Homo sapiens: one gene and its partners. The protein of the gene in region 5 purifies or fractionates together with the protein of the main gene of each other region. This does not show direct contact. Each region holds a gene or a part of one and is shown on either strand. Other genes may lie near its edges.

What was found.
Region 1: the proteins of PRKCE (region 5) and KCNC4 purify together in Homo sapiens (affinity purification with western blotting; one study listed by BioGRID). This does not show direct contact.
Region 2: the proteins of PRKCE (region 5) and NTMT1 purify together in Homo sapiens (affinity purification with mass spectrometry; one large-scale study listed by BioGRID and IntAct). This does not show direct contact.
Region 3: the proteins of PRKCE (region 5) and CPVL purify together in Homo sapiens (affinity purification with mass spectrometry; one large-scale study listed by BioGRID and IntAct). This does not show direct contact.
Region 4: the proteins of PRKCE (region 5) and PSAT1 purify together in Homo sapiens (affinity purification with mass spectrometry; one large-scale study listed by BioGRID and IntAct). This does not show direct contact.
Region 6: the proteins of PRKCE (region 5) and MAPKAP1 purify together in Homo sapiens (co-immunoprecipitation; one study listed by IntAct). This does not show direct contact.
Region 7: the proteins of PRKCE (region 5) and CAD purify together in Homo sapiens (affinity purification with mass spectrometry; one large-scale study listed by BioGRID and IntAct). This does not show direct contact.

What each region holds. Positions count from the first base shown.
Region 1 is NC_000001.11:110,227,314-110,230,813, forward strand, and holds part of KCNC4 (voltage-gated potassium channel KCNC4), read left to right. Parts: intron 1-1,219; coding exon of another isoform or gene 1,220-1,386; exon of another isoform or gene 1,387-1,485; intron 1,486-3,500. UniProt on the Homo sapiens protein: Voltage-gated potassium channel that opens in response to the voltage difference across the membrane, forming a potassium-selective channel through which potassium ions pass in accordance with their electrochemical gradient.
Region 2 is NC_000009.12:129,625,024-129,628,962, forward strand, and holds the start of NTMT1 (N-terminal Xaa-Pro-Lys N-methyltransferase 1), read left to right. Parts: upstream 1-1,139; 5' UTR 1,140-1,272; exon of another isoform or gene 1,273-3,692; intron 3,693-3,939. UniProt on the Homo sapiens protein: Distributive alpha-N-methyltransferase that methylates the N-terminus of target proteins containing the N-terminal motif [Ala/Gly/Pro/Ser]-Pro-Lys when the initiator Met is cleaved.
Region 3 is NC_000007.14:29,000,038-29,003,537, forward strand, and holds part of CPVL (probable serine carboxypeptidase CPVL isoform b precursor), read right to left. Parts: intron 1,348-3,500; exon of another isoform or gene 1,292-1,347; intron 1,019-1,291; exon of another isoform or gene 932-1,018; intron 1-931. UniProt on the Homo sapiens protein: May be involved in the digestion of phagocytosed particles in the lysosome, participation in an inflammatory protease cascade, and trimming of peptides for antigen presentation.
Region 4 is NC_000009.12:78,314,125-78,317,624, forward strand, and holds part of PSAT1 (phosphoserine aminotransferase), read left to right. Parts: intron 1-3,500. UniProt on the Homo sapiens protein: Involved in L-serine biosynthesis via the phosphorylated pathway, a three-step pathway converting the glycolytic intermediate 3-phospho-D-glycerate into L-serine.
Region 5 is NC_000002.12:45,658,175-45,661,674, forward strand, and holds part of PRKCE (protein kinase C epsilon type), read left to right. Parts: intron 1-3,500.
Region 6 is NC_000009.12:125,700,709-125,704,208, forward strand, and holds part of MAPKAP1 (target of rapamycin complex 2 subunit MAPKAP1), read right to left. Parts: intron 1-3,500. UniProt on the Homo sapiens protein: Component of the mechanistic target of rapamycin complex 2 (mTORC2), which transduces signals from growth factors to pathways involved in proliferation, cytoskeletal organization, lipogenesis and anabolic output.
Region 7 is NC_000002.12:27,241,369-27,244,443, reverse strand, and holds the end of CAD (multifunctional protein CAD), read right to left. Parts: coding exon 3,048-3,075; intron 2,534-3,047; coding exon 2,321-2,533; intron 2,143-2,320; coding exon 2,017-2,142; intron 1,825-2,016; coding exon 1,669-1,824; intron 1,573-1,668; coding exon 1,471-1,572; intron 1,247-1,470; coding exon 1,152-1,246; intron 1,029-1,151; coding exon 926-1,028; 3' UTR 501-925; downstream 1-500. UniProt on the Homo sapiens protein: Multifunctional protein that encodes the first 3 enzymatic activities of the de novo pyrimidine pathway: carbamoylphosphate synthetase (CPSase; EC 6.3.5.5), aspartate transcarbamylase (ATCase; EC 2.1.3.2) and dihydroorotase (DHOase; EC 3.5.2.3).

The DNA of each region.
Region 1 (3,500 bases), on a different chromosome or scaffold from region 5:
CACCTTCTAGTTTCTTTCCCAGACCTTTCAGTACCACTCTCCCCATGGAAGCCCCAGGCCACCCTGAGCCTAACCAGCCCCTGAAAGGTGTGTGTCCAGCTTTGTTGGGCATGTGTTCTGTGGACTGGCAGAAATGGGAATAGTGATCTGGTGCCTAGAAGGAAGTGGTCCAGCAACCCCAGCAAAAGGCAGCAGATGGAGGGTGCTCAGACCTCTACCCTCGCCTGTGTTCCTTTGTTCACCCCCGTGTCCTATCCTTGGGCCTGGATTTGGCCTTCTCTCCCGCCGACCATCCCAAACAGGCAGTGGCTTCCACTGTGTCCTTGTTCAGGCCCAAAGCCTTGCTCTGGCTGGACCGTGCTAAGCAGACAGTCTAGAACGAGTGGTCCCTGTGTAGGACTCGAGCACACAGAGCTGAGTGCCACGCATCCCTGCTTTCCTCCCTGGGCTGTGAGGGGCTCAGTGGAAATAGGTGTGGAAGAGGCCGTGAGGGTACCAGTCAGGAGGGACCACGAGGTACTGGGAGTGGACTGCACCTGGGGAAGGAGTTTCACCGGCACGTGCACGGGGCAGGAGAGCCAGCATCTCACCATCCAGTATCCCTGGGGTGCCTGTGGGGCCTGTCTGCTCTGTTTTCAAGATGCCTCCACACTGCTTCTTGGCAACAGGCATGTAGCTCAGCCAATTAGAGTGACCTTCGAGAGGGAACAGGTGGGTTGCTGGGAAACAGGCCCTGCTAAGCAAGCGTGGCAGTTAACATTGCCAAACTCCCAATGCACACTCGGCAACTTTCTCCACGCCGTACCGTGCCGCACTTCTCCACACTCAGGTTATGCTTAAGACCAGGAGTGAGTGGGTCTGGGCCTCCTCCACACAGGCCCATGTATCAGAGTGTCAGTTCCCTGGGAGGATGGTGGCAGGTGCTAATTAGGGCTTCTTAGAGTCAAGAAGGCTGATGCTGGAGGCTGTGGGGTCTTTGTCTAGCTGGGCTATCAAGGAGCTGGTGGGAAGCTTACCTGGGGGCAGGACAGGACAAAAGTCAGCTGGGTGTGGGGCCCTGGAGTCTGTCCTCAGGAGCCCAGGAGACCTGAGGCCAGGGAGAGTCAAGGAGGGCCAGGCCCCTCCACACCAGCCCAGGGCCACCCGCCCTGCAGTGTCTCCTGGAGCGTGGACCCTGTGGAGCTGCGCCCACTGACCCATGTGCCTTTTCTTCACCAAGGCTGTGGAAAGTCCCGGAGTCTAAACAACATAGTTGGAGCAGCTGGAACCAGCCTGGGGCTGTCTCCACTGGCATCGCGTTACAGCTTGCCCTACCCTCTGAAAAAGTTCCTGCTCACCCCCTTCCACCCCCTCACCGGCCCACCCCCTGGTCACTCTGCCCCTTAGCTGCACCTTCCCCTCTGGGCACACGCGCACAAACAGGCACCCTTCCATGCCCTCAGCGCTCACTCCCCAGGGCCCACGCGGGCAGCAGGAGGGAGCAGGGGGGAGCAGTCAGGACAGAGGAGAACTTAGGCCCCCGAGCCTGCCCTCCATAGCTCCAAGCTTCCCAAAAGGTTCAGCTCTGGAACCGGAGAGCAAAGGGGAAAGCAATCCCAGAGCTTCTCCCCATATTGGCCTCTTCCTGGGCTGTAGGTGCACACCCCGGACCTGTCTTTCGGCCTTGCCTTCCTCTCGGGGTCCCACCAGGGCCAGTCTCAGCCACCAGGCGTTTATGTGTGCACAGAGCGCCTGGGGCCAGTCAGCCTTGTTGGGGAGCCACGCCTATGTTAATATCTTTAATCACTGTGAATGTATTTCCATTCCTCATAGCCTTTAACCAGTAGCCGAACAGCCTGTCTGTCTGTCTGTCTGTCCACCCCACACCCAGACCAGCAAGGAACAAGGCTGTTATGTCGGGCATCTCTGCTGGTGTAAAGGTGGTTTGACTCCTTGGAAGAGCAGTGCCTATGGGCAGTGCTGCCCTGGGAGAAGAGGCCTGATGTTTTCTATCCCTGGCTTGGGGCGCAGGTAGGGGTCCCTAGCGTTGTAGCTTCAGGCTTGGTGCAGGCCGTGGGCGGGCTGCCTAGGCGAGGGAGGCCCTTCCCTCAGGAAGCCTCTGCCCAGATTCAGTGGTGACTCCCACTGGCGGCACCTGGTGTCCCTTCTGCGCCCCGAGCTGCAGCATCGCTCTCCACGCTGCTTCCTCTGCTTCTGCGACAGTTCTTCTTCCCTCTCCCTCTCCCTCAAACTCCCAGCCCTGCCTCTGAGTCACCTGCCATTCCCACCCAGCCTCTGCGCTCTGTATTCCTGCCAGAACCGGAGACTCATCTAATTTCTATAATTAAGTGTATTCATTTACCTAACGAGCCCAGGAGCACAACAGGTTTGTGAGTCACTGGGTGAGCAGGGGTACACCTTGCGCAGGGGCAGCTGAGGGGAAGTGTGGGGACAGAAGCCATCTTGCCCCCACCTGCTCCTGCCGCTCCCGGGAAGGGGGCCCTCCACAGCCTGAGGAACAAGGTTGCCTCAGCCAAGACGTTTCCTCTTTCACCTGATGGGAATTAGACCTGACAGCAGAGCCGTGCGCCTGGCAATTTTTAGAGTCAGATTATGCAATTTTGCGGAGAGAATGACTAAGTAAGGTCCAGATCTGCTCCTTCCATGGTCAGCAAAGATAGGATGGCAGGGCAGCGTCGGGGCTGGGCAGAGGCTGGGAAATCTGAGGCTCCCCAAAAGGCGGACTGGGCAGAGCAAATTATTGCATGGGGTTGGGGGTGTTGTGTAAAGCCTGTGCCCGGAGTGTCCCCATCTCGGCACCTCCCTCAGTCTTGGGCAGACACAGAAATGTCCTTCTGGAAAGGTCTGTTCAGAGTGGGCACTGGGATACCCCCACCCTGCAGTGGTTTGTGGGGCCTGCCTCCCACTTGCTCTCAGAATGAAGTGACCTGACCCATAAGAAGTGAGAAGAGGGGATGTGGGGGCCTCCATGCAACTGCCCTTCAGGAGGGAGCAGGCCCTTGAAGTGACAGGGATGGGGAAGCCTGTGGAACAGGATGGAGATGCGAGGGCCCCTCCCCCAACAGCGAGAGGACTCCCTGGCATGGAGGGCCTGGGCTCTGACAGGGACACAACGAGCCGGGTGTGCAGGTTCACAGGGATGCCACCACTGTTTTCTCCTCTGACTTGCCTTTCTGGTTCAGGGAACCGAGGCCGCTATTTCTGTGGCAGCCCTCAAGTTGTCAGGAGCCCAAGTTTCCACGGCACCCACCGCCTCCTTCCCTCTCTTCCCTCCCACAGGGCTGGGTCTGGCTCATGGCACCCCTACGGTGGGCACAGATGTCCCTGGGCGACAAGATGCAGCATTGCCAGGCTGGAGCCCTAATGCCTCGGGGAGCTGGCTCCCACACATCCCTCCTGGCTCTCTGGCTTCATCTGGGAGAGATAGAACCCAGATAGCAGGAGGGCTGAGTAGACTGTCTGCCCTTACAACCTCTCAGCACCTCTGGGCCTGCCCAGGG
Region 2 (3,939 bases), on a different chromosome or scaffold from region 5:
TGAGCTGAAGGTCTGACGTGCAATGTCCCACAAGTTTAACCCTCTCAGAGCATCAGAAGTTGAGTAATTATTACGTTGCTCAACTTCCTCTTCTGACAGGAGACTGAAGCTCGGAAATGTTAACAGGCTCTACCCACCTGCAAGCTCCCGTTTCCATCACCGCTGCCTCGGAGATAGCTCCAGAATTTCTTTGCATGGGAGGAGCCTAGGGAAGGGCCACGCTTTTGGAATGGAAACGTCATGGGCTTGTTTTGCTCATTTCAGTGGGAATCCCATGGCACTGCCGAGAGTATTTCTTTTTATTTTATTTATTTTGGGGGGTCGGTATTATTTTAAGATGCTAATGGAGATGGGTGGATTTGAGGACCAATGGCTTTTTTTTCCCTTTTTACTCAAAGCCCGCACAACACACTCGTTTTTAGAAGTCCAGCCTGCAGCCTCCAAACGAACTGTTGTACGTGCTGGGGACGGGGAGAGGGCGACGCTGCGGCTCTTTTCCGTTCGGGAGGTCCTTCTAGATTCCCAAAAGTCAATTTAGTCAAGTTTTGAGCTGTAACCTGTGTTGGGCGCGGTGGCTCACGCATGTAATCCCAGCAGTCTGGAAGGCCGAGGTGGAAGCCTCGCTTGAGGCCAGGAGTTCAAGATCAGCCTGAGCAACAGGGTGAGACCCCGTCTCTAATTTTTTTTTTTTAAAGAAGTCAAATTAGGCCAGGTGCGGTGGCTCACGCCTATAATCCCAACACTTCGGAAGGCAGAGGCGGGCGGATCACTTGAAGTCAGGAGTTCGAGACCAGCCTGGCCAACATGGTGAAAACCCGTCTCTACTAAAAATACAAAAATTAGCTGGGTGTGGTAGCTCACGCCTGTAGTCCCAGGTACTCTGGAGGCTGACGCAGGAGAATCGCTGGAACCTGGGAGGCAGAGGTTGCGGTGAGCCGAGATCGCGCCACTGCACTCCAGCCTGCTTGACAGAGCAAGATTCTATCTCAAAAAAAAAAAAAAAAAAATTTAAATTATTTTTCAAAAGAAGTTAAGTTAAATCCGGAGCCCGCGCGGGGGAGGGGCGAGCTGAGCGAGGGGGTGGAGCCAGCCATGGGCCCGCCCCTAAACGCCCGGAAGTGACGTTGGCGGACAAAGGCAGCGCGCGCCGCGAGCTGTCGCGTCTGGTCGTGGTCTGGCGGAGCTGCGGTTGGCTTGTGGCGTCTCCGCCGCCGCCGCCCTCCCTTCCTCTTCCCCATCTTCTTCTCTCGGTCCCGGGAGCCCCCGCCCGGAGTGAGTAGCGCGAGGCGGTGCGAAGGGTAGGCAGCCGCTGGGAGAGGGGAGGCTGCGACCCCTAACTGTTTCGGCGCCCTGAGGTCCCGGGTCCCCGGCTCGTCACGTGACCCGGCGCGTGCGCGCGGGCCGGCACAGGCCTCACGTGCGCGTCCCCAAGAGGTCTACGGGCCGGACCTGGGCAGGGACTACGGAGCAGTCCATGGGTCGGGGTACAGGAGGAAAGTCAAGGCACTCAAAGCCCAGGCAGGGCACTCCCCCACCCCGGTCCCCAGACCGCAGCAAATCCCTTTCTCTGAGCCTGTTTCCCTTCCGAGAAACAGGGATATGGAGAGCGCCCACTTGGAGGATGGATGGGAGGAATCGGTAAAATCGGTAAAATGCCCAGTTCAGAGCCTGGCACAGTTAAGTGCCCGCTGCACAGAAGTTGCTGTCGTATTTAACCTTGGGTGCCACCCGAGCGCCAGCCCGACACAGGTGCAGCTCAAAAAAGACAGCCCGAGAGCCCTTGCGGCCAAGGTCAGCCTGTCTGCAGGGAGGCTGCCATATCGAAAAGCCCAGACTTTGCTGCGCACCAACTGTGTGATCTCTCCCTCTGGACTTTGGTTTCTCCTCTGTACTATAAGTGATTGCCACAACTGGTGTCAGAGGCCCTGACAGCGGGGAGGGACAGTGTAACCGGTGGTTGTGGTGTGTAGAATGATTGCCCAGTGAGATGGGATGAGCCTCTGGGAGGAACCAGGGCTGGTATAAGGAGCCTGGATTCCCTCCTTAATTCTGTTCTCGGCTTCCTGTTTGTATGTTTAAAGACACGTCACTTCCTTTAGTGTGCTGGTTTTTCTCTATGTAAACTGAGGACTGTGCGGGGGTTGGAAGGATGCATGGAGCGTTTTGGTGGAGGCCGGAAGCCCTAGGATCACAAGGATGGCATCTAAAAAATCTCGGTGGGGGTTCTGTGCTTATAGGCAGAGGAAGCTCACTCCCCACTCTGGCTGATTTGCAGAGCTGTTTGAGTCTGCTGGCTTGGCCGCCCAGCATACCAGTAACAGTCCCCTAGGTGTGTCCAATACAGCTTCTGTGGCATTCTAAGGCAGTTTTCCCATTTGATCCTCATAGTGGGCAGAGTTGACAAGAATCTCATTTGACAGAGATTTCTAAGCTCAAGAGAGAATATGTGCCCGGCACTGTGCAAAGCACTTTAAGCTTTTCATATGCACTTTTAATCACAGCCTTTCTGTAAAGTCGGTATTACTGTTCCATTTTATAGGTGAACTGAGGAATGGTGAGGTTTAATGTCTTGTCTGTGCTTACACAGCAGGTGTGCAGAGCCAAGATTCAGATCTGGTTCATCTGGCTCCATCAGAGCCTTTGTTAGTTTTTAAATGTATCCCCTGTTTTGTCTTCTTCCCTCCCTTTCTCACTTCCTTCTTTTTCTTAGAGCACTCTGCCGTTTGCATGTGGCCTGCTGCTGTCCACAAAGATCCAGGGAGGATGGACTCTGTCCACTAGGCTGCTAGAGGGTGGAGGTAACTTTTAGGCAGGCTTTTCCGTAGAGACTTACGTGAGGAGGATGAGATGACTGCAAAAGTCTGCCGGTGACAGTTTCAGCACTGTTTTCTTCCATGGGTCGTGGGAGAAGAGATGCAGTACCTTGGGTCTGAACACCTTGGCGGGGAGGAGGAGGCAGCAGCCAGGTGACTGTGAAGGATGTAGGATCACATTTACTGGCTGAGCAGCCATTTACCAGGCATGAGGGGTTTGTCTTCCTCTCTGAGCTAGCCTAGAGTGCACACAAAGCCCGTGTGCTCCTGGCCCCCTCCCAGGCCCTTCAGCCACATACGGCATCTGTGCTCTGGAGCAGAGTGTAGCAGGACCACCTGCTGTTGGCTGACTGACCTTGCTGTTCCCTCAGACTCTTAGGGACCTCCTCCTGCCCCACTCCAATCTGGACACCACGAGGCAAAATGTAGCCAGGACCCCAGGAATCCCGTTTATTAATGAATCAGCTGTTAGGGCAGATGTCAAAGTCAGGCTTGCTATTTCCCGGCCAGGATGTGCCTCCCCTGGCTTGTTCCCAGAATTTGCGTGTAAGTGGAATTCTTGTAAATTAGATTATTCAGGGGACCCTGACATTTAAAGGAATCATGTTACAAGGCTTTTGGTAAAGCACAGAATTATATTGTCGGTAGCAGCCTTCAGGCCTTCAGTATTTACCAGTTCTGAATGGTTGGACTTTTGTCTGTAGGATTTTCTTAGAGTGGAAAATGGCTATAGCTGCACAAAGCCCATTCTTGCATTATTTGGCAACCAGTTAGTCAATGCCCACCTGGTATCAGGCACTGGGCTAATGGTGTACAAGGTAATGTCTCTACCCCCAGGAAGCTGCATGCTGGGAGAGGAGACGGATGGAGTCCAGCCTGGTATGTGTTTGCCCCCAGATTTATTCTGTTCATTTGATCAGAGGTGAACTTTCTGTTGAATATTTGTGTTTCATGGGATGCAAGAGAAGCATGGTGATAAATCTCAAATGTTGCCACTGCTCTCAGGAGCTCCCCGGCCAGGCGAGAGAGAGAACTGAATACAAAACCTTCAGTTTGCCAAGTTGGGCGGTGAGAGGGAGACAGGCTTGCTCTCGCCATGGTCCAGTCTGAATGGGAGTTGTGCCAG
Region 3 (3,500 bases), on a different chromosome or scaffold from region 5:
GAACTGTCTATTTTGGGTGCCTCCACACTAGAGCTGCAGCCTCTAACTTCATGTGTTCCAGATGTTCCAGGGGGTCACAAATGTGTCATGAATTTCAACAGGGTTATACAAACACTTTAAAGCTTCATTCCACTTTATTTTTTAGAAAACAATATAATTCTCCCTGGAACTAGAAACAAAGACCTGCCAGTAAAGGTTTCCCAGTTGTGCCTGTTTAGATGACAGAAAAGAGAGGGAAGTTCACAGTGGGCTTGTTGATGTAGATGTGTCAGGGGAAGCTTCTTGGGGGTCTTGAAGGAGATCACTGGACGGAGAGTGGTGGGTGGGTGGGGTGGGGGTGGAGGGATCACCGCAGACAGAGGAAACTGTGTGTGGAAATGCAGGAGGCGTGGAAATGCAGGAGGCATGGAAATGCAGGGGCATGAAACTGTGGGCACGTGCAGCAGAGGGATCACCGCAGACAAAGGAAATTCTGTGTGGAAATGCAGGGGCCGTGAAGCTGCGGGCGCATGCAGCAGTCTGTATGTCGTCCCATTCATGCAGGAATAGAGGGAAACAGAAGAGACAGATGAACAGGCAAACGCTAGTGGGACCATGTGATGCCCCAAGTGACATGCTGGGATGAGTGGACCTTATCCTATCGGGCTTTAAAAGCAACTGTGGTAAAATACACTTAACATAAAATTACCACTTTAACCATTTTAAAGCGTATGATTCGGTAGCATTTAGTATATTCACACTATCTTGTTGCAGAATATTTTCACCACCCCAAAGGAAACCCATATACATCAGTAATCACTTCCCACTCCCCCTCTCCCCATCAGCCCCTGGCAACCATTAATCTGCTTTCTGTCTCTATAGACTTGCCTATTCTGGATATATCCTAGAGGGTTTTAAGTAGGGTAGTGACATGCTTATGTTTGCATTGTAGAAAAATGACTTAATGTCTAAGGAGAAGGCTAATTTGGAAGGGAGTCATACTGGTACAAGGAGGCAAATTAGGAGACTACCAAATCAGGTGAGAGGATGTGGGCTCATGGGAGGGATGGGGAGAAGGGGAAGGAGAAGAGGGTAGTAAGATGGAACCAATAAAATCAGTGATTAATCCGATATAAAGGTTAAGTGAGACTTTCTCTACCCATCCCCAACAAATCCTCCCCATTTCAGGCTTCTGACATGGGCAGATTTGCAAAGGTGGTGCTACTCACCAGGAAAGAGAAAAGAGCCACATGGGAGCTGCAAGTTTGGCAGGCAGAATATGTAGGATTGGTTTATTGTTTCTGCTTTCCAGTATAGAAAGATGCATACCCTCAAGAGAATCTGCTTGTTGTGGTTTCTGATTTACATGTAAGTTCTTTTCACTACTTTTATGCCATTCCACATTTACTAAATCTTATCTTTTAGTTTGCTTTCAGACACTAACTATAAGTAGAAATAACGTAAATAGCATTCAAATAAAAATATATTGAAAAGGTACTTGGGAACGAGAATAAAAAACAAGCCAAAGCTTGTTAGCAGACACTTCCTAACAAAGAATGCAATAAGTCACTTTCGAAAGAATGAAAAAACAGCAGAGATCAAGGCTGGGAGTTGCTTCAACAGCACTCAGGGAAACGATTCTTGAGGTCTCCCACTGTACACCTCTGGTGTAGCAAATGGTTATTGAATAGAATGAGAAAAGGAGCTTCTAGGTGCTTCAGGAGACCCACATGTAGCCATCATAATGGTACATATTCTAGAGCAGTTAAAACTTTTGGTGCTCCTTTACAACATCCCCAAGGGGCTTCCTATGTACACCATCTTAATCAGTTGCAACAATACTGTTTGTAATTTAGGACTTCCACTTCTGACTGTGACACAATAGCATGTACCAAACCAATCTTATTCCACAGAAAACAATAGAAGCTGAATTAAAAAGAAAATAAGCTGTTTAAAGGTATCAGAGAGCAACCAAGCCTTGAGAGAGGCCATGATCGTAGAGAAAAGGGAATCACAAGGAAGTGAGCCTAACATTTTGTGCTGCTTTTCCCTTTGGGAAATTCACCAATTTTTAAGCTTCTCTGACCAAGACGCCAAGTCAAAAGCGGCAGATAAGAGAATGAAAAGCTCATTAGTCTTACGGTGCTTGAGAGACCAAAAAACAAAAACAAAGAAAACCCCAAAAGAAACAACAACAACAAAAAATTGGAGTTGCAAGCCTGTCAAGGAGGGACAGCACTGGTAAGCACTGCAGGCTTTCCATCAGATCCGTGAAAGACAATGCCTTGGAAGTAATAACAAACCAGAAACAGGTTAGTCCTCACAAACCTTGAAATCAAGCACTGAATCAATCGTCTCAATCCCAAACTTTATCAAGGTGATATGCCTCTACTCTGTATGCCTTCTAGAAAAAATTAAATCCTTTTGGAAGAAAAATAACATTTTTCTTCATATATTTTTTGTACATTTTCTTCAACATTTAATAAAATTTAATAGGCATGACAAAGAACAAGAGCAATGACTAAAATTTAAGGAGAAAAAAAGATAACAGAGACCACAAATGATCCAGATATTAGAGTTACCAGGTACACATTTTAAAGTAACTGTGAACAAAATATGCAAGATGTTAGGTATAGAAAAATAATTCACAAGATAATTAGAATATATACAAGAGAATCAAATGGAAGTTCTTTAACTAAAAAGTTACTCATTCATTGTTCATTGAAATTAAGAACTCGATCGATGTTTTAGCAATAGATTAGGCATGCAGAAGAAACACTATATGAACTGGAAGTTAGGTCAGTAGAGGATATCCAGACTGAAGCATGGAGAATAAAGGTATGAAAATTCAAAAAAAAAAAAAAAGAAGAAGAAGACGACATGAAACCATGAAACATTTAACTTATGTTTAACTGGAATTTTAGGATAAAATGATAAGGAAGAAATGGGGCAAAAGAAACAAATAGTAACATTCAGAGATACTGACTGAAAAATTTCCAAAATTGACAAAAGTTACCAAGCCAGTTTTGAGAAGCTCTATGAATCCTAGATAGAATAAACACAAAGCAAACTAACCACATCATAGTACACATAATAGTATATTAGTAATAGTATATTACACTATAGTATGTGTATGTGCACACACACACACACACACACACACACACACACAGAGAGAATAGCATTTTGCTAAAAGCAAAGACAGAGAAAATCTTAAAAGCTGTCACAGAAAAGGAAACAGTACTTTCAGTACCTTCAAAGCAGCAAGAAAACTGACTATTCAACAGAAACAATGAAAGCTGGAAGACAGTGAAATAATATCTTGAAAGTTCTTAAATAAAATATCTGCCAACCTAGAACTTGTATAGAAATGAAGACCTTGTAAAGATATTTTCAAGGAAACAAAAAATTGGAAAAGGTTTTTGTCAGCAGACCTGCACTAAAAGAAGTACGAAAGACTGTTCTTCAGACAGAAGGAAAATTATCCGTAATGGAAACATGAAAATGCAGAGGAGAATGAA
Region 4 (3,500 bases), on a different chromosome or scaffold from region 5:
TAAGCTGTGTAAGCGTTTTAGAGCCCTTGTGTTTTCAAGATTTTAGACGGTATGGGAGTTGAAACATGAGTTAATAAAGAACTGGAAGCCACGAGGGTCCTGTGTTAAGTAGAGCCACAGGGGCTAGACATCAGTGCTCTGCAGAGGGCTGGGTGGGAGGGGAGGCAGGACCTCCTATCCTGTGTTAAGTAGAGTCACAGGGGCTAGACATCAGTGCTCTGCAGAGGGCTGGGTGGGAGGGGAGGCAGGACCTCTTATCCTGTGTTAAGTAGAGCCACAGGGGCTAGACATCAGTGCTCTGCAGAGGGCTGGGTGGGAGGGGAGGCAGGACCTCCTATCTTGTGTTAAGTAGAGTCACAGGGGCTAGACATCAGTGCTCTGCAGAGGGCTGGGTGGGAGGGGAGGCAGGACCTCCTATCCCAGGGATGTCTTCAGTCTTCAGGACAGCTTGCTTGCTTCTGAGTTGTCTGCCTCTTGTTTAGGCTTCATAGAGCCAAGTTATGGGTGCTGGCTCCAGGCAGCCCCTAAAAGTGGGTGAGCTTTCTGCTGGCCTTGCCTCCTCAGATCCCATTAAGAAAGCCAGAGATCATGGGCGGCGAGTGTGAGCACAGCAGTCAGCTAGGGGTTCAGGCGTCGGTACTGAGGTCTGGCTAGGACGGTGGACCTGACATGGGCCTTGCTGCACTTTGGATTTAGACAAACCAAATCCACAGTGCAGCAAGGGCCCATGTCAGCTTTGAAACCCTGGGCTAACACAGAGCTTCAGGCAAAAGGGAAGCTTGGTCACCTGGAAGTATTGTTGGTGACCTGGGCTCTGCTTGGATTCAATCACATGGCAGGGTGTGTTTCTGTGGTTCTGTGTGGAGGTGGGGGGTGAACAGGCTGCAGGTGTGGGAGAGGAGCAGTTGGAAGTGAAGTGGGAATTGCAGAGCATCTGATGAACAGAGGGCTGGGCAGCCTCGTGTCTGGAATGCACACCCACGTGCATGTGTGCTGTGTGCTGGACTTGGCCACTGTCACTGGTGTGTGGTGATAGCTCTGCAGTCCCACTCGCAGGGGAGCTAGTGGCTGGAGCCCTGCAGCCCCTGGCAAAGCAGAGGGCCTGCATACTTGTGGGAAGAGCTTGCATTCTTGGAGTCAGACAGGCTAGAGTTGGAGTCCTGGCTTTAAGCTGCTTGCCAGATGACTTGAGGCAAAGTTAACCTCTCTGAGCCTCAGTTTCCTCATCTGGAAAATGGGATGACGGTGGCTCTAACCCGAGGATTATTGTGATCAATAAAGATAGGCTGAGGCCACAGTAGACTTCAGGAAGTACTCATTCCCTTCTCTTACTTTCTCTCTTCTGTCTCTTTTGTCCCTCTGACTTCTTGGACGTTAGCCAGAGAGCTACCGCTGAGGCTGTGGATATTCTCAGGGGCTGTTTCCTCTTCCTCCCTGCCTTCCCTTTCTGCCAGCAGCCACTCTTGCTCTTTCTTCCCAGTGCTGTCTGGGGAGGTAGGCTGGGGAAGCTTCAGGAGAGGTTGTTGGATGTTTGTGGCTGCTGGCTGCTCCCTGCCTAAGGCCCCTCTGGGCAGCCCGGTGTTGGCTTTTGCCAACATGAGCTGGCATGAGCCACTGCACCCAGGCCTTGGGTCCCACTTGAGACAGTGAATGAGCCAGTTGGTATAGGGGGCTTCCCTGTGACAAGCTGCTGGCTGTTAGAGCATTTTCCAGACCCCATAATGTCCCCTCCTGTTAATAAAGGAGGAAGCAGCTGGGTATCCCCACCCTAGATCTTAGCTGAGCATTGACTCCCAGTAAATTTTTGCACAATTCCCATAGGGGATCTTTGATTCACACCTCTGGAGAGGGCATAGTTGGCAGCTGACCTCCAGACTCCCAGCTCAAGGGAGATGGTGTCTTCCCTGGGCGACCTCTCCTCCTGTGCCCTGAGCTTTTACTGAGTACACGTGGAGCCTTTAGCACCTTCTTAAGGAGAGGGGTTTTCAGACTGGGGAAAACCATGCACCGCTCCTCAGTGTTTCATATTTTCAGCTTAAGTTTGAAGGGACTACTGACTGCCATTTGTGTGGCCCACCTGCCACGTGCCAGGCCCTGTGCTAAGCGTTGGTCTGGCAGGAAGAAGTTGAAATACTTGGTTCAGAAAGGGATGGTCCTGAGCTGCGGGAAGGGCCCAGGTGCAGCTGGACTTCCTGGAACCAGGGACACAAATCCTCCTCCATCTGCTCTCCACTTCTGATCCTGGCTTCTCTCAGCGGGAATGTTGGCTTCATTTTCAGATGGGCCTTCTTCAGATGTTTCCTAGAAACATGATCCCCTAGGGCTCTCATCTCCTGTCTCACAGTTGCACTAATATTCTGCCGCTTTTTCTGCTCTCCCCACTCTTTCTCCCCACACCCAATTCAGAAAATCTCAGGGAAGGCCCTGATTGGCCCAGTTAGGTCCTATGCCGAACTCTGAGACCAGGGAGCCAAGGGGCCTTGCTGGACCTGCATACTGGCTGGAGGGTGGAGTTGGGAAGAGCAGGGTGGATAAAATGCCAGGTGTCCACCACAGGTAGGTGGATCTCCCGGTTCCAGATGGGAAAACCGAGGTGACTAATTCTGGGTAGTCTGTTAGTGAGTGGCTGCCCTACAATGGGAGTCAGGACTGGGAGGGGGAGCCCGTCCTTTTAACCCCTCGGCCACAGTGCTCTCTGCTGGCTGGAAGGCACTGTGCTAAGGATGTGGGTAGAAAAGATGAACAGCGTGGGCTTCTAGCCTTCCAAGACCACAGAGGCCAAACAACAGGCACACAGAAACTTAAAAGAGCAAGTGGAAAAAAACTATGCAGGTAATATGGGCAAGGCGCTCTGGGAGTTCAGGAAGTGAAGAGCTCGCTCTGGGTAGGGGTGGGATTGGGGTCTGCTGATGCCTTCTGGTGGAGATAAGGAAGTGTGTTCTGGCTCTCAAGAAGAGTTTACATTAGGGCTTAAGCTGGACAAGGAGGGACTGATATGATGTTTAGTGAAAAATCTGATTAAACCTTTTTCTGAATGGCCCTCAGGGATCTAGAATTGGGTTGACCCTAGTCCTTGCTTGATGACATGCTCTTGTTCACATGGGCCCTGCTTTTGTCTTGTGTATTTTCTTTCTTTATTTTTTTTGGAGACAGGATCTCGCTCTGTCACCCAGGCTAGAGTGCATTGGTGTGATCATAGCTCACTGCAGCCTCGAACCCCTGGGCTCAAGCATTCCTCCCTGCTCTGCCTCCCAAGTAGCTGGGACTATAGGCACATGCTATCACACCCAACTAATTTTTCAATTTTTATGGAGACGGGTCTTGCTATGTTGCCTAGGCTGCTTTCCAACTCCTGGCTTCAAGCGATCCTTCGGCCTCGGCCTTCCAAAGTGTTGGGATTACGGGCGTGAGCCACTGCATTTGACTATCTTGTCTATTTCAAATAATGTGTTTAAGTCTGTTTTAATGCACCTTCAACAGCAGTTTGCTTGAATATAGTT
Region 5 (3,500 bases):
ATTATTTCCCCAGCAGCCAAGGGTCCCTGGATCTCCCTTTCCCCTACTCCCATAATACCATGTAATCCAATATTGCTCTCATTGGTCCATAGCTGGTTGTTTAACAACTACCCAAAGGATTCATTCTTGGCCCAGTGCTATCACAGACAACCTCTTGGCATTGGGTCCCTAGAGTTAAGGACCTGAGTTAGCCTTCAACTTCATGGACAGTCAAGCGTTGTTTGAACTGTTTCTTCTTCTTAGTGTCTTTGACCAGCAGCAGATTTAGTGAATATTTGAGACCCTGAATTCCCTGGCTCCTCAATGGACCGCTCTCCCTGGATTCAGTGAGTTCTAACTGGAAGGCATCTCCACCACTCACTAGTTGTGTGACTTTGAGCATGTGACTTAGGCTTTTTAAGCCCGTTTCTTCATCTGTAAAATGGAAATGTCGTAGGTCTTGACTTTCAGAGTTGCTATGAGAATTAAATAAGGAACTATAAAGCTTGTAGCAAGTGGTCTGGCTATAATACATTTCAGCAATTTTATTAATATTTGAAGAGTCATTTGTGTGTTCATAGTTTTAGAATCTTAAATCAGAACATATGGTCCAGTGAAATATATTTTTCTCCTTGATTTGTGAATGTATTTATATGAAAAGTCTTACATACTCTAAAAATAAATTTGACTTAGTTATACTTAACAAATTGCCCTTTGGAAGATAATAGAATTACTTGAAATGAGATTGTTCTGGAAAGTCTAGAAGCTGCGGTCATTGTAGACAAAGGTTAATTATTTATTGAAGAGGTATGGGTAATTGGAAATGAGGATATTTGGGAGCTGGTGTTTTGGTTTTACTGTGCCAATGTCATCTAGTTTCATGGATTTAAATACACTTTCAGTGCTGTTGACACTAAATTCCTAATTCCAGCTCATGCCTGACCCTGAACTCTAGACTTTATATATGGGATTGCCTTCAGGTCCTCAGCTTTCATTGTGTAAAGGGCATCTTAAACTCCATATGCCTAATATTGTATACCTATTTTCCCCTCTCCTCAATCTAAGCCCTTCTTCCTCAGCTTAAGAAATGGCAACTCCATCCTTCCAATTACCCAGCCAAAAACCTTGAGGGGCCATCCTTGACGCCTGTAATTCTCAGGTGCCCCATATCTTATCCATCAGCAACATCTGCTCTTTCTGCCTTCAAAATATATCTCAGATCACATCCTTTCCATACCTTTGCTGACCTCACTTGGGTCCAAGTCACTATTATCTCACACCTGGATTATTTCAACAGCCTCTGAATTGCTTCCACCTGTCCTGGCTTCTCAGCTCCTGTCTCTGCTCACAGATCTCTCAGGTGAGATTATCCCTTACCATAATTTACAAGACCAACAAAGTCAGGCCTTCTGCTGTGACCTCTCTGACCCTATCACTTGCCACTCTTCTCCCTGTTCATTCCTCTCTAGCTATCCTGACCCACTTGACACCCCTTAAATGCACTTACCATGCTCCTGCCTCAGTCTTTACCCTTGCCATCCCATTTTTTTAGAATGCCCTTTTCCCAGATATCCACATGGCTCAAGTCTTCGCTCAGATGTTATGTTCTCAGTAAGGCCTTTTCTGGCAATCCTATCTAAAAGTTCACCCTCTTATTTTATGCTTCATATGCGCCTTTCCTGCCTTTTTTTTTTTTTACTCTTTACTCTTACCTCTATCTGATACGCTATTTAGTTTTCTTATTTATCTTTGTTGTTTATTTCTAATACCAGAACACCAGACGCTCTATAAATGTAGAGCTTTTTGTTCACCGCTTTATCTCAGCACCCAAAACAGTGCCTGGCACTTTGTTGAATGAATGAATAAATTGTTGAATGAATGAATAAATTTCTTGGCACATTGTTGAATGAATGAATGAATGAATGAACACAAAACAAGTGTGTATTTCTATAGTACCTACTATGGTCTAGCACTGTTGGTAGATATGGGGTTTGGTAACACAAAAGTTGTGTATGTGTAGTTCCTGCCTCTGAGGAGCATGGCATCTCGATAGAAACCAGTTGAATGAATTTCTTAAACAATCCTTCTGTACAGTTGAAAGAAGTGAGGAGGAGGAGGAAGGAGAAAAGGATATTTTATTTTATAAAAATCTATGAGATCCCTGAAGATGTTCTTATGAGAGAATGCTATATTATTTCCACATAGCAATTTGCATCAAGCTGAAGAATCTCCGTCAAGTCTGAATTTCCCAAAAGTAGGAATTTTCTACCCTCTGAGTGCCCAGGGCCCATTCCAGGTGCCATGGTGAGGGAAGAAGAAAAAGGCCCACTTGTCCTCCATTTGCAGAGTTTAAATGAAGTTCAAATTCTCATCAGGGCTTTAGATACAAAACCCTTTGTAGTTGGCAGCAACAAGAAACGAAATTTCAAATTCCGGCGCCTGAACTCATAGAGCTATTGAAGCATGTTCAGACAAAGCTTCCAGGGGTTTCACTTAGGCTAAAATAACTCCAGAGCAGGCCTGCAATATTTTACATAAATAAAAGCTACACTTGGCAAAACATTATATTTCTCTCCAAGTTCCTCTGGGTATATATGGGCTTGTTAGTAATTACAATCTATTATAATGCTAATCAGCATGGTTGCACCTGTTTGAGATTTAGTTTTCTGTCAGAAACCATGTGAAGTGGCCAAAAGTCTGTACTGTGCTGGGAGAACCAGGAGGACAGGAACATACAATTCATCGTAACTCACTGACATCTAAACAAAATTGAAACTCCAGAGGAAATATAACTGAAATCTGTAATACTGTGCTGGGGAAGAGGAGGAAAAACAGAAGCCTATCATGAAACCCAGATGCTGAAATGAGGATCTCCTCTCTCCTCATCCCTGACCTCTACCCCACCTTGAAGTCTCAAAGAGGTAGTTTTATGTTAGTGAAAAGTCACCTGTATTTGCCAGCAAGGAGTAGACTCACTGAGCTCCTGACCCCAAGAGATAGATAAGACTAAAAATGTAATCAAGCTTAAGAAGAGTTTTTTAAAATTTGAGATGGAGTCTTGCTCTGTTGCCCAGGCTGGAGTGCAGTGGCATGATATCGGATCACTGCAACCTCTGCCTCCCGGGTTCAAGCGATTCTCCTGTCTCAGCCTCCCAAGTAGCTGGGATTACAAGCATGAGCCACCACACCCGACTAATTTCTGTATTTTTAGTAGAAACAGGGTTTCACCATGTTGGCCAGGGTGGTCTTAAACTCCTGACCTTAAGTGATCCACCCGCCTCAGCCTCCCAAAATTCTGGGATTATATAAGAGAAGTGAGCCACTGCGCCTGGCTTCAAGAAGAGTTTTTTTTGTTTTGTTTTGTTTTTTGTTTTTTGTTTTTTTTTTTTTTTTTAGAAGGAGTCTCGCTCTGTCGCCCAGGCTGGAGTGCAATGGTGCCATCTTTACTCACTGCAAGCTCCGCCTCCCGGGTTCACACCATTCTTCTGCCTCAGCCTCCCGAGTAGCTGGGACTACAGGTG
Region 6 (3,500 bases), on a different chromosome or scaffold from region 5:
TTTATTCCCTTTATTTTTATATTCTGTTATTTCCTTATACAATAGAGTATGAATGAAAACAAGTATCTACAAGACCAGTATTTCTTCAATTTTCACCTTGTGAAAGCTGGGTATTAAAATAAAAATAAATTAAACTCTTGGGCTGGGAACTCCCTGACCATATTTCTCTCACTGTGCTGGGTGTCTCTACGCCCCCTTTCAATCTTGAGTACATATAGTCAATAGGCACTGCATGCACTGGGGGAGCACCTGGCCCATCAAGGGCCTTTCCCAGAGGAAGTAATGAATAAAGAACAGATGAAGAGCTGAGTAGTGGTTCCTGACCTGCCAGCAAGAGAGGAGGGGCAGCATTTTAGATTTGAGTCATCTCCACTGGAGTCTGCCAGTAATCAGTTGTGTGACTTTAAGCATATCAATTAGAAACAGAAAGCTTGGCATCCCGAAAAGAAAACCATTCCTTCAATTTTCTACCAATTTCTCTGCTGAAATGGTACTTATTTGTAACACAGTACCTTAAAATGAGTCCGCAGGGAACTGGAAAATGTTATTTTTTTGAAGTTTTACACATTCAGTATACTTTGCATCAGTAATAAAAGTATATTAGTAAAAGTATACTCAAGTATAGGATATTACGAATTGAATTTCAGCAAGACTTGAATTTTACTCCTCATTATTTATCCAAAAAGGAAAAAAGATCCGAGGATTTGTAAGTGACGTGACCAAACTCCAAAGGCTGTTAGCGGTATCCGCATATTCAGGATGCAAATCACTCTCTAGTCAACTGCACTTGCTACTAAACTGTGATTCACTGGCTGTTAGTGGTATCCGCATATTCAGGATGCAACACCCTCTCTAGTCAACTGCTCTTTCCACTAAACTGTGATTCACTGGGTGCCGATTTCTTCATCTCAAGAGGTGATGATTACCCCCTTTGTAATACTACCTATCTCATAGGACTATGAAGACTAAAGAAAATAAGGTATACAAGAGCATTTAACAAATTTACCATACCACTTCATACTATTGTGGAGAGGGCCAAGAGACAAGAAATCTGGTAGCATTTAAAGTGCTAAGAGCACAAAATAGAAGTGTTATAAGGTCATCTCACCAGCCAGATCTATACTTTAGCTTGATTATACAATAAAAGCATTGACCTTGCCACTCTCCAAAACTATCAGCGCAAGCTACAATGCCCCCTCACACTGGCAATTTACCATGAGATTTCTAATCAATAATCAAAACATTGTATTGTATACTTCCTGCTCTGAACAACAGGTACCAAAATTTCAGCAGCCAGGTAGGTTGGAGTTCACAATCAGGCAGCCTAGAATTACACTCAGCCCACAAATATGTTTTGATCAACATAATTTTTAATGGCAAATTTTTAAACTAAATACATTAAAATCCACGACATGCAGTGGCTCACACCTGTAATCCCAACAATTTGGGAGGCCATGGCAGGAGTATCATTTGAAGGCAGGAGTTCAAGACCAGCCTAGGCAACATAGATAGACACCATCTCTACAAAATTTTTTTAAAAATTAGGCCGGGCGCAGTGGCTCACGCCTGTAGTCCCAGCACTTTGGGAGGCCAAGGCAGGTGGATCACCTGAGGTCGGGAGTTCGAGACCAGCCTGACCAACATGCAGAAACCCCGCCTCTACTAAAAATACAAAATTAGCCAGGCGTGGTGGCGCATACCTGTAATCCCAGCTACTCAGGAGGCTGAGGCAGGAGAATTGCTTGAACCCAGGAGGTGGAGGTTGCAGTGAGTCAAGATCGCGCCATTGCACTCCAGCCTGGGCAACAAGAGCGAAACTCCTTCCCACAAAAAAAATAAAAGCAACAACTAGCTAGTACATGGCCGGATGCAATGGCTCACCCCTGTAATCCCAGCACTTTGAGAGCCTGAAGCAGGCGGATCACTTGAGGTCAAGAGTTCAAGACCAGCCTGGCCAACACGGCAAAACCCTGTCTCTACTAAAAATACAAAAATTAGCTGGGCGTGGTGATGGGCACCTGTAGTCCCAGCTACTCAGGAGGCTGAGGCAAGAGAATCGCTTGAACCCGGGAGGCGGACATTGCAGTGAGCCAAGGTCATGCCACTGCACTCCAGCCTGGGCAACAAGAGCGAGACTTTGTCTCAAAAAAAGAAAAAAAAAAAAAACTAGCTACACATAGTGGCATGCGCCTGTAGTCCTAGCTATTGGGGAGGCAGAGGTGGGAGGATCACTTGAGCCCAGAATTCAAGGCTGTAGTGAGCTATTACCACGAAACTGCACTCTAGCCTGATAGGACGATACCCTGTCTCTAAAAGTTAAATAAATAAATAAGAATAAATTAAAATCCAGATTTCCAGCATCTTTTCCAAAAAGTGTCAAAAGATCCAAGGACACTGGGCCCACTTCCTCACATGGCAACAAGCAAGTGGAGCTGAGCAGCAACTGCTCCCTTTAGTTTGGGCCCGTGCTCTCCAGTTCATCAAGGCCCAGCCTACTCATCCTAGTACATAACAGGCATCGGACTTGGAGACCACTGAGGAAGATGCTCAAACAGAACAATAATAATAATTTAATGAAGATTTGTTTACTCTTTTTTGGCCAGTTTTTTGTGGCTCTATCACACATTAGCTCTGTGACTCTTAAGTAACATATTTAACCACTAAGCCTCTTAAATTTAACACAAGCTGAAATATGCTGACTTCTGAGTCAAAAAACTTCACAAAAACTTCGAACTCACAGAAACAAGTCAGGGCACCTCCCATAGGGAAAAAACGTAATGTGGCCACGAATGGTGGCTCACGCCTGTAATCCCAGCACTTTGAGAGCCCGAGGCAGGCAGATCACTTGAGGTCAGGAGTTTGAGACCAGCCTGGCCAACACAGCAAAACCCCGTTTCTACTAAAAACACAAAAATTGGCCAGGCGTGGTGGCACCTGCCTATAGTCCCAGCTACTTGGGAGGCTGAGGCAAGAGAATCTCTTGAACCCAGGAGGCAGAGGTTGCAGTCAGCCAAGATCATGCCACTGCACTCCACCCTGGGTGATAGAGCAAGACTGTCTCAAAAAAAAAAAAAAAAACAAGTAACGTGACAGAAGTCCTTGTCATATAATAATTTGACATCTACAACTGCGTCCGTAACAGTAAGGCCTATACATCAGAATAACAGATTGCCAGCAAATTATCTTAGGCTGAATCATATAAATCCACTCAACTGCAAAAGTTTCTGAAGTCTTCAGGTATAAGTCAATAAGCAAAACAAGCTCCCCCACCAAAAAAGAAAAACATTTAAAGTAACAGATAAGGCTATGAGCTCCTTTAGTGCAAAGGCCACTTCCATTCCTCGTGATCCCTCCTGTCTCACAATGACTGGCACACTGAAGCTACAGCTCAAGGGCAAGTTTCTCTCTGAAGCCTTTCCAGAGGGTCCGCATCCACATCACAAAGAACAAGCAACATGGTGTAGTAATGAAGAGTGCCGATCTCAGTGTTCAGCAGATAA
Region 7 (3,075 bases), about 18 Mb from region 5:
AATGAGATTTCTCCAATGCTACTCAAGTTCACTGGAGGGCACAGCTGCTCCTCAGAAGCCCTCACCCACAGACACATAAGCTACTGCCCTTAGGCTGCTGCCCTGGGGTCTCCAAGCCAAAGTGCTCCTCAGCCCTCCATGGCATCTGCCCCTCTGTCCAATGTCAGGCAGAGGCTCCCAGGGATGGGAAATAGGAGGGGCTCCTAATAGTGACAGTGGCTGAAGAACTCCAGGGTGGTTTTGAGAATGCAATGGCAGCCTTAGCCACTGGAGGAGGACTAACCAGAAAGAGTGAGGAAGAGTCCAGGCCTGGCCTCAGACAGGCCGCAGTGCTCAGCCTTCCTTTTACCCTGATGAGTGTTCTCCCAGTGTCAGGAAGAGGGCAGAACTCTCTGTCAGGTCTTTGAGTCAACTGAATTGAGGAAGGAGGGCTGGACACCAGCCAGAGCCCCCAGGTAAGCGCTGGCATCAGCACGACACAGGACTCAGAGAGCACAGAGTTAACACGCTCCTGCCGAGTCCCAAAGAGTCACGAGTGTGAAAATGCCGAGTGTGGGCACGCAGCCCTAGCCAGAGCCCTGCCTGGTGAGGCTGCTCTTATAATTTGGGAATCTGCTCAATTTTCTAAAAGAAAGCTCTGTTCTACTACACTCAGCATCAAGGGACAGCTCGGCTGTTTATTAAGTCAGTAGAAAAATGACTGTACAGGTTTAAGGTGCAGGAATGAAGATGGGGCAGACTGGGCCCCAGCATCTGAGGCCCCACCCCCATGCCAGAGAGCTCCAGTCCAGAGCCTGAAGTGTGGTCAGCACATGTGAGCTATCTGGATGTCCAGGAATATCTAAGTGTGCTGCCCCCGTAGGAGGCACTGGAATTCCTTGCCCAGCAGCTGGGCCTAAAGAGAAGAGGCTGAGGAAGCCAGGCCCTAGAAACGGCCCAGCACGGTGGCTAACAGAGCCATGCGGATGTACATGCCGTTCTCAGCCTGGCGGAAGTAGGCTGCGCGGGGATCCGAGTCCACTTCCACGCTGCAAAAAAAAAAAAAAAAAAAAAGGAAGTGTTATCGTGCAGCCCATGGATGGCTTGTCCAGGACTAAGTCTCCTCCCGTCCACCAGCCCCGAGGCAGTCTCTGACTCTGATGCTGCACCACCTTATCTCGTTGACACGGGGCATCGGGTGCATCACCACCATCTTCTTCTTGGCCCGGGTCATGATGTGGGGAGTGAGGATGAACTGACCAAAGCACTGCAAAGCAGATGGGGTCCCCATTAGTGCCTTGGGGTAGGAGTGGCTACAGAGGACACAAGTCTGGGCTCCACTGGGGTCCCCTCCACACCCACATGCAGCTATGGCAATTGACAGATGTGAAGTTTAACAGCTCTGACCCAGCCCTCAGCCCAGCCTTTCTGTCCTCATATCTGATGCCCTACGGCAGCAGCCCTGGCTTCTTCCTCAAGCCCAGCACTCACAGCTTCGTACTCCTGGGTAGAGCCAAATCGTTCCTTCTGGATTCGAGTCATGTAGAGCACATCAGTGTCAGGCAGCGCCTCCTCAATGCTCTCGAATTCCTCCTGGAGGGTGAGGAGAGCCATGGTGGATGCAGCGCTGGGCTCTGACTGCCCAACCCACATCTCCATGGCTTCCAGGCAGGGCTGTGAGGGTCTCACCTGCTTGGTGCCGCGGGAGGCCACGAAGGCCCGCACAGTGGGTGGCATGCGCAGGCTGGGAGGTGCCACGTAGCGCAGGCTGACACGATACTGGGTGAGCAGGCAGGCCAGGGAATGTACTGTGCGTCCGTGCTTCAGGTCACCCACCATCGTGATCTAGGAGAGGAATCCAGTCACCACAGGGATCCCAGACTGAGTGCCCCCCGACATCATTTCCAAGCTTTTAAAAGCCTCTGGAGCAGAATGAAGGCCTCCTTGATGCAGCTGTCCTGTACCGGGGTAACCACTTCCTGCCTCCCTCTCTAGATCGTCCCCTGGCAGGGATCCAAACCCTGCCACCACCCTCACCGTCATGCCATTGACAGTTCCCAGCTCCTCACGGATGGTGAAGATGTCCAGCAGGGCCTGGGTGGGGTGCTCTCCGACCCCATCCCCAGCATTGATCACTGGCCTCCGGCAGTGCTTGGCGGCCAGCTGGAAAAAAGGGGAAAATCCTGTCTTTTGCAGCTCAGAGGCCCCCCAACTGCCAGTCCCCCTCTTCTGGGGTCCCCTCACTCATCTGGCCCAAAACACAGAAAACGTGGGCAGAAGGGTTCTCATGCCCCTGGGTCCAGCCTTCTTAACCCCATCTCAGTACCCAGGCTGGCCTCACCTCCACTGCTCCAGGCTGGGGGTGCCGGAGCACGACGACGTCGGCATAGCAGCTCATGGTCTGCACGGAGTCAGCCAGGGATTCGCCCTTCTGGACGGACGATGTGGCTTCCGAGAAGCTGAGCACAGCACCTCCCAGCCGGGCCATGGCTGCTGCAAAGGAGCTGCTGGTCCGTGTGCTCACTTCATAGAACATGGAGGCCATGACCTTCCCCTAGGGAAAGAGCAAGATGGAAGGTGTACGTATGCGTGTCCACCCTGGGGAAACCCCAGCTAGGCACCACCACCCCAACTGACACTTGAGGGGTGCTGTGAGGACCCTTCTGCACCCAAACCTCCCCTGTGACCTGTCAGAGCCTTGACGTTTCCACCACTGGTGTCACTCTGAGCTAAAGGCTCTGCCTCCAGAAAACCACCCATCATTAAGTGTCTGAACGAGCTGGGAAAGGAGGACACACCCTAGCTCTCTCCCATGATTGCAGCAGCCCAGACCAGAAGACCCCACTAGTGGGGCGATGGTCTCATGCTCAGGGCCTCCCCAGCCAGCTAAATCCTGCTTTGGGGAGGGAAAACGTGGGGGAAGATCTACAGCAGCAGAGGGATGGACTAGCATAAGGGGACGGGATGGCAGGGGGAGGAAGACCCACTCTGACCACTGCGCGGCCCTGCGCTGATGCGGCCCAAGGGCAGGCGATGGCCTGGACCCTACCCCCGGCCCTGATCCTGACCTTCAGGATGTCGAGGCTCCGCTCCTTC